3 linked regions of the Homo sapiens genome follow. The protein of the gene in region 1 purifies or fractionates together with the protein of each later gene. This does not show direct contact. Each region holds a gene or a part of one and is shown on either strand. Other genes may lie near its edges. The genes, in order: NAXD, CLN6 and NFXL1.

Region 1 (3,653 bases):
TTTAAAAACTGGTATCTTAAAAAACCACTGTACTGCGTGGAAGTGTGAAAGGTGGGAAGTGAGGGTGTGCGTCGCTGCCCCTGCAGCCCAGACTCTGGACCTTGCATTCTGGTTCCTGTACACTGTTGCCGTGGTCTTGAGAGCCCTCAGGTCATCTAGCGTGGGCTGCCGCCTCCTCGTCAGCTTCCAGCTCGTGTCTGGTGCGGAGCAGAGGCTTCCTACTTCGTCGACGTTCCTGAATGAGGTCATCATCTGGTGTAGGCCTGAAAACAACCCGATTAGGTAGATTCCTATTCATAGCCCCATTCTTCTGATGACAGATTGAGTCCTGGCAAGGATTCAAGACGCCCGTGGGATCTGGTAGCAAAGAAACTGCAGAGATGGTTTTTTAAAAACGACTTTATTTAGATGATTTACCTACCATACCCCTCACCCATTTAAAGTGAACTATGCGGTGGCTTCAAGTATATTCATAGTTGTGCAACCATCACCATGATCAACCTTAGAATATGTTTATTGCCTCCAGAAGCAGCCCATCCCCGTTAGCATCTGCTCCCTGTTCCCCAGTCTCCCCAGTTCCTGGCAGCCACTCAGCTAGTATGCTTTCTGTCTCTCTGGATTCGCCTGTTCAGGACATTTCATATGAATGGAATTATGCAACGTGTGCTATTTAGTGATTAGTTATGTCACTCTGCATAATTTTATATTTAGAGTTACCTGTGTTGTAGCATGTATCAGTATTCCATTCCTTTTTATATCTAATATTTCACTGTATGCATACACCACCTTTGGTTTATCTGTTGATTAATTTATGGAAAATTGGTTTCCACTTTTTGTGTGGATGTGTTTTCACTCTCCTGGGTGTTAAGTGTTTCACATTTTGAGGCCCTGCCACTGTTTCCCATAGCGGCTGCACTATTTTCCATTCCCTCTAGCAGTGTGCGAGGGCTCTGATTCTCCACATCGTTCCCAGCACTTGTTACTGTTGTTGTCTACTTAGCAGCCACTCTAGTGGGCGTGGAGCGACCTCACTGTGGTTTGGTTTGCGTTTTCCTGGCAGCTGATGCTGTTGAGCATCTTTGCATGTGCTCATTGGCTGTTTGGGTATCTTTTTTTTTGTTTTTGTTTTGTTTTGTTTTTGAGACATATTCTCACTCTGTCACCCAGGCTGGAGTATAATGGCGTGATCTTGGCTCACTGCAATCTCCACCTCCTGGGTTTAAGTGATTCCTTTGCCTTGGCCTCCAAGTAGCTTGGACTACAGGCGCCCACCATCACACCCAGCTAATTTTTGTATTTTTAGTAGAGATGGGGTTTCACCATGTTGGCCAGGCTGGTCTCGAACTCCTGACCTTAGGTATCCGCCCGCCTCAGCCTCCCAAAGTGCTGGGGTTACAGGCGTGAGCTACCATGCCTGGCCTCTTTGGGTATCTTCTTTGGAGAAGTGTCTATTCATACCCTTTCCCCACTTTGAAAACTGTTTTTTGCCTTTTTTTTATTGACTTTTAGGAGTTCTTCATATACGTTCTAGACACAGGTTCCTTATCAGAGAGACGATTTGCCGATATCCTCTCATTCTGTAGGTTGTCTTTTCACTTCGATGGTTTTGTTTACAGCACAGTTTTTAATTTTGAAGTCCAATTTAGCTGTTTTTTCTTTTGTCCCTTGTGCTGTTGGTGTCTTATCTCAGAAGCTTCTGCCTAACCCAAGGTTTACTCCTACATGTTAAGAGCCTTATTGTTTTGGTTGTTACTTTAGCTCTGCGGTGCATGTCGAGCTGATGCTGGTGTGGTAGGAGGAGGCTCCAGCGTCAGTCTTTTGCTTGTGGGTGTCCAGCTGTTGCAGCACCATGTGCTGGAGAGACTCCTTTTTCCTCCCAACTTGTCATCCTCCCTGACAATCCGTTGACCCTAAATGTGAAGGCTTATTTCTGGACTGTTGTTTCTGTTTTGTTGATCTGTACAGCTGTCCTGCAACTGCCCGGTCTTGACTGCTGTGGCTGTGTAGGAAGCCTTGACGTCGAAAGCCCGAGTCCTCCAAATTCGCTCTTTTTAAGGTTGTTTTGGCTCTCCTGGGTCCCATGCATTCCAGTTTTGGATCAGCTTGCTGATTTGTGGAATAGGCAGCCGCAACTTTGGTAGGGATGATGTTGAAACTGAAGATCAGTTGGGGGAATGTCTAACAACATTAAGTCTTCTGGTTCCTGGGCTGGCTTTGAACCCACGTTGTCTGAATCTGGAGCGCAGGCTCTTGACCAATGCACCTGTCCTCACACTGTGCTCTTTGCACACTCGTTAACAGTGTGTCCTGGAGACTTTTTCATGGAAGGATATGTGGATACTCATTATTTTTAACAGCCACATCAGAATTTATGGATCTACTACAGTGTATTTAGTTCATTTACACTGTTTTCAGCTTTTTCTTCATGTTAACATCAGTGGTGTCCTGAATCTATGTGTTTTGTGCACTCTTTTGGGTGAAGTTCCATTGCTGAATCAGAGTAAGGACGTTTAAATTTTTGAGAGATGCCCCCAGATTTCTCCCTAGTGTACCAAGGTTTGCTTTCCCATGGGTGGGGACACCCTTCTGCGCTGGGTGCTCTGATGCTGCAAACCTTTCTAGGAGACCCATGTAACATTGCATTTTCCAGGGTTTGAATATTCACTTTTGAGTACTATTTGCAAATACATTAAAAGAAAACACAGAAACAGATGAAAATGTCAGATTGTTGCCAAATACTGCAACATGAAATCAGAAACTGATCTAAAATCTGAATTAGCAAAAGCCTGCCAGTTTTAACAGTAAAGCCAAACTCAGGGCAAGCAGACAAAGAATTTTTATTGTTAATAAAGGGAATAATAAACTTCCATGAAGTCTCAGGTACCTGCCTCCCTGGAAGGGGCTTCAGGACACACTGCTAATGCTCGGACCAGTGTCAGAGCCAAATACACACTTTCCTATGGCTGGAATGTGCGTCATAAACAGGCTGAAATGAGCACTTTGTTAGGCGAGCAGCTAATGCTTTGTCAGCTTTCAAATTTCATTTAATATACACGGCTTTAGTTTTCAATACTTTAAATTATTCTTAGCATGTATTTTTATGTCCAGAATTGGTGGGTTCTTGGTCTCACTGACTTCAAGAATGAAGCCGTGGACCCTCGCGGTGAGTGTTACAGCTCTTAAGGTGGCGCGTCTGGAGTCTGTTCCTTCTGATGTTCAGATGTGTTCGGAGTTTCTTCCTTCTGGTGGGTTCGTGGTCTCTGTCTCAGGAGTGAGGCTACAGACCTTCGCGGTGAGTGTTACAGCTCTTAAGGCAGCGCGTCTGGAGTTGTTCGTTCCTCCCGGTGGGCTCGTGGTCTCGCTGGCTTCAGGAGTGAAGCTGCAGATCTTCGCGGTGACTGTTACAGCTCATAAAAGCAGTGTGGACCCAAAGAGTGAGCAGTAGCAAGATTTATTGCAAAGAGCGAAAGAACAAAGTTTCCACAGCGTGGAAGGGGACCCGAGCGGGTTACCAATGCTGGCTCGGGCAGCCTGCTTTTATTCTCTTATCCGGCCCCGCCCACATCCTGCTGATTGGTAGAGCCGAGTGGCCTGTTTTGTCAGGGCACTGATTGGTGTGTTTACAATCCCTGAGCTAGACACAAAGGTTCTCC
Region 2 (3,653 bases), on another chromosome or scaffold:
AAGAGGATTTGGACTCTGATAGGGAGGTGGGTGAGTTGGGAGAACCTTAAAGGTCACCCCTGTTCTCGAGGGTCTAGATGGGAGAGTACAGCTCCAGCCCCATTATGCCAGACTGGGTTGGCGTTGAAATGCTCCCTGCAGTGGGCTGGTGGGGCTTTGGGAAAAGCTTCATCAGGGAAGCCTTCCCAGAGGAGGCAGCACTGGTCCTGGAACTTCAGTGCATCTGTGAACAGCAGATGACCAACTGTTTAGTGAGAGGGACAGGCCTCCAAAGATGTATCGTGAGGCAGTACTCCACTTCCTGCTGTGTCTCTCACATCACCTTGCTTCTGCTGGCTCCTTCTCAGGTTCTACTGTGGACTGCTGAGAAGAGGATTACCAGCAGCCCAACCTGACCTCCTCACAGTGCTGGAATCAAGCGAGCAGGAGGCCCTATCCATTTCAGTCTCTCTAAAGCACATTTCATTGGAGGGCTCTGATTGGCCAAGCTCTGGTCACATGCCCATCCCATAGACCAATCCTGATGGACCCAACTATGGGATGGAGGTTAAAAGTATAAGCTCAGGAGCCCAATCATTTGGGTTCAAATCCTTAGCTGTGTGACCTTGAGCAAGTTATTGAGCCTCTTGGGCCTCAGTTTTTTCGTTTCTAAAATGGAGGTAATATTTCAGCCTTGAAAGGTTTCTGTGAGGATTAAATGAGATAATACATGTAAACAGCTAACAGTAGTGCCTGGGATATAGTAAGTGCTCAACTAAGGTCAGCTGCCATGATCCATCATCAAGTTTCATGCTTTTCAGCCACGATTGCGTCCTTTGCCTTTCTTGATTTCCTCCATCTTTCAGTAGCGGAGAAACCCCAGCAATTACACCTGTTCAGCTGTTTCCTTCCTGAATCAGAGAGAAGCTAAGGTCGGGGCAGCTGAAGTCCACCTTCTCCTTGACCACAGGGCCAGACCCCAGTATATCCAGCAAAACCCTATCCATAGAACTCAATTATGTGTGTCTCCTCCTGTCCTCAAGTCCCCAGACCTCTTTGTGGCTAATCTCAGGGGAAGATTTTGGTGGAGGAGGAGAGAAGAGCTGACTTCTCTCGTCTGGTTCCTTCCCAGGCATGGCTCTGTGAGCGCTGATGAGGCTGCCCGCACGGCTCCCTTCCACCTCGACCTCTGGTTCTACTTCACACTGCAGAACTGGGTTCTGGACTTTGGGCGTCCCATTGCCATGGTGAGTGTGAAATGGTGCACAGGGCTCTGACCAGCACTGAGGACACTTAGTGTGGCTTGAATTTGCCGAGTGACCTTAGACAAGTCACTTCTCCTTTATCTCCTAGTAAACTGAGAGAATAGGCCTGGATGCCTTCATATCCTTAGCTCTATGACTTGGCCCGTCAGGCAACTGCCAGCAAGTGGGGGGCCTGAAGAGTCATACTTTGCCCCAACTCTCATGGGGGAACTGGTGGTCCTGAACAGTCATACTGTAATACTGTAACCCCCTCTGGCCTGTGTCTGGAAGCAGGTGAACCAGGTTGAACCAAATCACCAAGACAGACAAAGGGGTATAGGAAAGGAAGTGGAGCACCGCACCCCCACCTCCGTCTCCCCTGTCCTTCCCCATTACCTTGGGATAGTATTATTTTTTCTGGAGTTGAAGGGCGTAGGCTGATTTTGCATATTATATATGACTGTGAGCCATGGGTAATTTTTAATGCCATCCAGTGAAACCATCCCCTGCCTTCCAAGGCTACTTCATGCTTTAGTATCCAGTGGTGGCCTCCACAGACAAGATTAATGCTGGGAGGGCACCAGTGCCCCTTGCTTGTAGTGGGAGGATGGAAGATAGATAGGTAGGTAGGTAGGTAGGTAGGTAGGTAGGTAGGTAGGTAGGTAGATAATTGACAGATGATAGATAATAAATAGACGAACGTGAAGAAAATTAAGTGAGATATCACCAGGTATCAAGTCATTATTTGGTAGTGGGGGCACAGTGTGACTATTCATGGCCCCCAGACCCCTCCCACCCAACTTGCTGACAGTTGCCTGACGGGCCACAGTCATAGAGCCAAAAGATATGAAGGCATCCAGGCCTATACTCTCAGTTTACTGGAAGATAAACGGGAAGTGACTTTTCGAAGGTCACTCAGCAAATTCAAGTGTAAAAATAACAATATCCAGTGCTGAAACTGGCACTTTGTACATACTAGTGATCATGCAAATTAGCAAAGCCCTTTTGGGGCCGGGCATGGTGGCTCATGCCTATAATCCTAGCACTTTGGGAAGCTGAAACAGGAACATCACTTGAGCCCAGGAGTTTGAGATCAGTCAGGGCAATATAATGAGACCCTGTCTCTATAAAAGATTTGTAAATTAGCTGGGTGTGGTGATGTGCACCTGTAGTCCCAGCTACTCAGGACTGAGCTGGGAAGATCTCCTGAGCCTGGGAAGTTGAGGCTGCAGTGAGCCGTGATCACACCGCTGCACTCCAGCCTGGGCAACACAGTGAGACCCTGTCTCAAAAAACAAAACAAACAAAAAGCAAAGCCTTTTTGGAAAGCAGTAATAATTCATAAGTAACAACTTGGCAAGATTAGTACTTAGAATAGTGCCTAACACAATAAGTGTTTAATGCATTTTTACTGAATGAATAATAATTATAGCAAAGTTAGAATAGTGGCTAACATCGAATGTTTACTCTGTTCTAAGCTCTTTATGTGTTTCAGTTTATTTAATTCTCATATCAACACTATTGCTGATCTCAATGTTATAGATGAGGAAACTTGAGGAGAGAGAGAATAAGTAACTGGCTCGAGGTCAAGCATAGAGGCCAGCATCTGCCCAGGCATTCTGGCCCTGGAGCCCCTTTCTGACAAGGTTGAATTCTCTGTCACATAAATATCCAGAATCCTAATATATTCATCCCTCTGACCCAGTAATACCCTTCCGAGAATCTGCCCGTAGGGATATAATCAGCAAGAAGACAGCAGTTTCCTCTAACTCAAAGATGTTCATTGCAGTGGTGTTTATGATAGCCAAACCTTAGAAGTGACTTGCGTGTCCAGCATTAGGGACTGGGTAAATCAGTTTTGCTATGTCCATTATAGAGAATGTTTCCTGGCAATTAAGCAGAAATTATGGATACTATAGAGCAACCTGGAATATTTAAGGAGAAAAAAGGTTCCTAAATGACATGCAGACTGACTAATTGCAAGTCAATAACGAGCTTGTCTACCTGGGATCAAAGACTTGATAGGTGTAAAGAAAAGCTGTCCTGGCAATGCTGTCAGGGAGTGATGGTGGGTGCTGGTTCTCCTTCCTGCAGTCTTTTTGAAGGTTGCCTTTTAAATGTGGAAAAATAAGAGGAATTGAGCCAAGAGTTGGGGCATCTGGTTGGGTTTGTGGGTGACCTAGGGCAAGTCACTGTCCTGGGCTTCATTTCTCTCTCCAAGAAGACTGGCTGGACTGGCTGCTCTGAACCTTCTTCTAGCATGAAGGAACCACATACTGGGGGCCAAAGAAGCTGCCCATCAAACTGGTGCTAGAGAGAGAGATGAGGCCAGGAGTGGGCTCGTGGCTCCCTTCACTCACTAGGACCCAGCTTCTACTGGCATAACAGGGTCTCCTATTGGGCAAATCACTTCCCCCATCCTGCTTAGAG
Region 3 (3,653 bases), on another chromosome or scaffold:
GAATACCTACATGAAAAACCTCTCTGCTAACTACACAGCCCACCTCCATTAAATCTACAGACTAAAATTACCCTATTTGTGCATATATCTCCTAACAACACTTTGCCTCCCAACTTGACTGTGTGACCAATACACAAAAATATACATGCTATTTCAACTGGGAGGAATGTTGTGGAAATGAAAGCTTTTAGAATTAAAAAACAAAAACAATCCTCTCTTTAAAAGACCAATACACCAGAAATACCAATGTTTAATTTGGCACCTCAGTTGTAGACAACAGCCCCTTTTCTAACTTTATGTTGCTTCTCAGCATTCTGTGCTTTTTCCCCTATACTCCATAACCTCTGCTGGAAGTATAAAAAATTCCAGGATTCCGTATTACTGTAGGTTCAGCTCCTTAGAGCTCAGTCCCAGTCATTCACTGGCCCATCCAGGAAACTACTTCCTCTCATTTCCAAGGCTTCCTTTAAATATTCCCCAAGTTTGCCTTATCTAAAACCTGGCTTTCTTCTGTCTTCAGGGAGCTTACAATCCAGTATGGGAATCATCGGGAAAAGTAACAAATGATGTTCCTTGGATTTGTTTTTGTAATTGCATGCACTCGCTATGGAAAGCTAAGAAGGGCATCAAACTCCAACTGGGGGTAAAGACTCAAAAAAAGATATCTATAGTAGGTTTATATGCAAGTATGACAAACATGTTTGAAAAGAATGAAGGTTAAGACAGACACACTAGTTGATAGGCTAGGCCTGAAATAATAATGAACTGAACTAAGAAAAAAGGGAGATTGACTTCAGATACCCTTTAAGCTATGTCAAAAGTTTTTTGTTTTTTTTTTTTAATTGAAATTCTAATACTTACATAGGAATAGGAACTTGACATGGAGGACACGGTAATGCAGTCTGAATAAATGCTGGCTCAGAAGGCTGTTCCCAAGGGCCTGTAGGCTGGTGCTACAAATAAAATACATAAGAATTTTAAGTCAGAGGGATTAAATCATATGGCCATTTTAAGAATCTAAGAAAATAGTTCCATGTATCCTCTGCTCAAGCAGGTTGAAATTTTTTCAAATAATCAATAAATTGTGCTTACTGAAATATTTCATTTTATCTGTATTAAATGAAATTGTTCCTCTCCACAGACATTTGATATTAATAACTGAGACAGAATCCAGTTTATAAATGGTAGAACAAAGGCAGTGTAGCCTCCTTTACTTCCAATAAGGAAATGAGAAAAACAATTGGAAACTCCAACATCTAGCAATTGAATATAATCTCCATCATTTTACTCACTGTTGTTCCTCAGCACCTAAAAAAAAGCTTGATATTTAGTAAGGGCTCAATAAATGTTCATGAGGCTGGGCTGGACGTGGTGCCTCACACCTGTAATCCCAGCACTTTGGGAGGCGGAGGCGGGCAGATCACTTGAGGTCAGGAGTTCGAGACCAGCCTGATCAACAAGCTGAAACCCCATCTCTACTAAAACTACAAAAATTAGCTGGGCATGGTAGCAGGCACCTATAATCCCAGCTACTCAGGAGGCTAAGGCACGAGAGTCACTGAACCCGGGAGGTGGAGGTTGCAGTGACCCAGATCACACCACTGCACTCCAGCCTGGGCAACAGAGTGAGACTCCGTCTCAAAAAAAAAAAAAATTAAATAACTAAAAATAAATAAATATTAAATAAAATATTAAAAAGTGAATAAATCTTTAAAATAAGATTATAGGAGATATCTATAACCCTAAACCACAATATATGAAGGAGGACTGCCAAATTCACCTGTATCATGATCATAATGTAACTATCACACTGTATTTGCAAACAATGGTTTCACTCCTTTCCTACACTGTGAGTTGCTTAAAACAAAATCAAGTCTTGATTACCTTGTACCCTGCTCCAAGCACAGTGCTTCCCAATAAGTGCTTAATCATTGCTCATTGAAAAACTAAGTAAAAGCAAGAAAGTACAACCCACAGCAATGCACTATTTCTCTAATAGTATTATTCCCTTACCCTGCCAGTCTGCTTTATTAATGCTTGATCATGACACGGAGCAGGACACAAGTGACCACATTTCTCCAAAACTTTTTGGCAAGGTTGATGACATGGTGGACAAGAACCAAAGTGACAGCGATGTTTTTCTTGACTTGTATGATGACAAGTTGGTGGTCGACTAAATCATAAAGTACAATTTTCAAAAATTACTTTTAGTCATTGAATAATTACATCTAAAGGACAATTATCTATTTACATATCTTCTGATTCCATATAGAATGAGTATACTGTGAATATTAATATTTTAAAACACTAAAGCAAAATTAAATTATTAAAAGCCAATATGAATTTAAATTTGTACAACATCAGATGGAAGCTTGTGCAAAGCTTCAAACTCACCTGCATTGCTCCTTGCACTTGGGTGGTCTTGTGGTACGTTCTCGGCCACAGGGCACTGTCACCTTTGTATTGCCACAATTACACTTCACATCTACGGTTTCTGGGCAGGGATAGCAACTGCCTGAAAAAAAAGTCTGACAATTAAAAAGTTTCCTTAACTACCCAAATGCCTATTAATGGTAAAATACATAAATTTAGTATATTCACACAATGGGATACTCTACAACAAGAATGAAGAAACTACAACAACATGAATGAATCTTACCACAAAACATTGAGCCAGACACAAGGAGTACATAGTGCATGATTCCATTTATATAAAGTAAACAAGAAAAAATGTACTGTTCAAAATCAGAGTGATAGCTATGAAGGATGCAAGGAAGGTGTTGAAAATTTTGGTCATGTTCTGTTTAATGATGTAAGTTTTGGTTACCTGGCTATGTTCAGTTTGTAAAAATTCAACAAGCTGTATACTTTTTATTTGTAATACTTTTCTCTTTTTTTTTTTGTAACAGGGTCTCAACCTGTTGCTCAAGCTGAGTGCTGTTGCATGATCACAGCTCAGTGCAGCCTCAACTTTCTGGGCTCAAGCAATCCTCCCACGTCAGCCTTCCAAGTAGCTGGGACTACAGACACACACCACCATGCCCAGCTAATTTTTGATTATTTATAGAGATGGAGGGGTCTCACTATGTCATCCAGGCTGGTCTCAAACTCCTGGACTCAAGCAATCTTCCCACCTCAGCTTCCCAAATGCTGGGTGTACAGGCGTGAGCCACTGCACCCAGCCTCTGATTTATAACACTTTTTTCTCTGTACACTGGTACCTCATAAAGTTTTAGACATTTCTCTAAAATGTGCTAAAACTTCTGTTCTAAATAACAAATTTAACACATTACTCATTCAAAACTAAAACAAGCAAAAATGGATTTAAGTCTTTGGAAAATTTAACATTAACAATAATATCGTTGGCCTACTTTCATACATCTATCCAAGTACACAATTTTTAGATGAATTCCCAATAACTTCTTTCTCATGACCTGATATTGGTTAGTAGCAAGCACAGTCAATTTTCCATTAATTGTGCTTTGTGAAAGACTAAGTACTAAGCCACCATTTTAGGATATAATCCCAAATATTTCTCTTCTAAACATAAAAAAAAATGTTATTTTGGTTTCAGCTTTTTACGCTCTTTTGTTATGGGTTGGCAAAAATATAAAAAAACAAAATCAAAGAAATCTTTAAAGCAGGCTATAAAG

Evidence for each region.
Region 2: the proteins of NAXD (region 1) and CLN6 purify together in Homo sapiens (affinity purification with mass spectrometry; one large-scale study listed by BioGRID and IntAct). This does not show direct contact.
Region 3: the proteins of NAXD (region 1) and NFXL1 purify together in Homo sapiens (affinity purification with mass spectrometry; one large-scale study listed by BioGRID and IntAct). This does not show direct contact.

What each region holds. Positions count from the first base shown.
Region 1 is NC_000013.11:110,628,908-110,632,560, forward strand, and holds part of NAXD (ATP-dependent (S)-NAD(P)H-hydrate dehydratase), read left to right. Parts: intron 1-3,653. UniProt on the Homo sapiens protein: Catalyzes the dehydration of the S-form of NAD(P)HX at the expense of ATP, which is converted to ADP.
Region 2 is NC_000015.10:68,216,109-68,219,761, reverse strand, and holds part of CLN6 (ceroid-lipofuscinosis neuronal protein 6), read left to right. Parts: intron 1-1,111; coding exon 1,112-1,226; intron 1,227-3,653.
Region 3 is NC_000004.12:47,883,485-47,887,137, forward strand, and holds part of NFXL1 (NF-X1-type zinc finger protein NFXL1), read right to left. Parts: intron 2,516-3,653; coding exon 2,395-2,515; intron 2,174-2,394; coding exon 2,014-2,173; intron 954-2,013; coding exon 862-953; intron 1-861.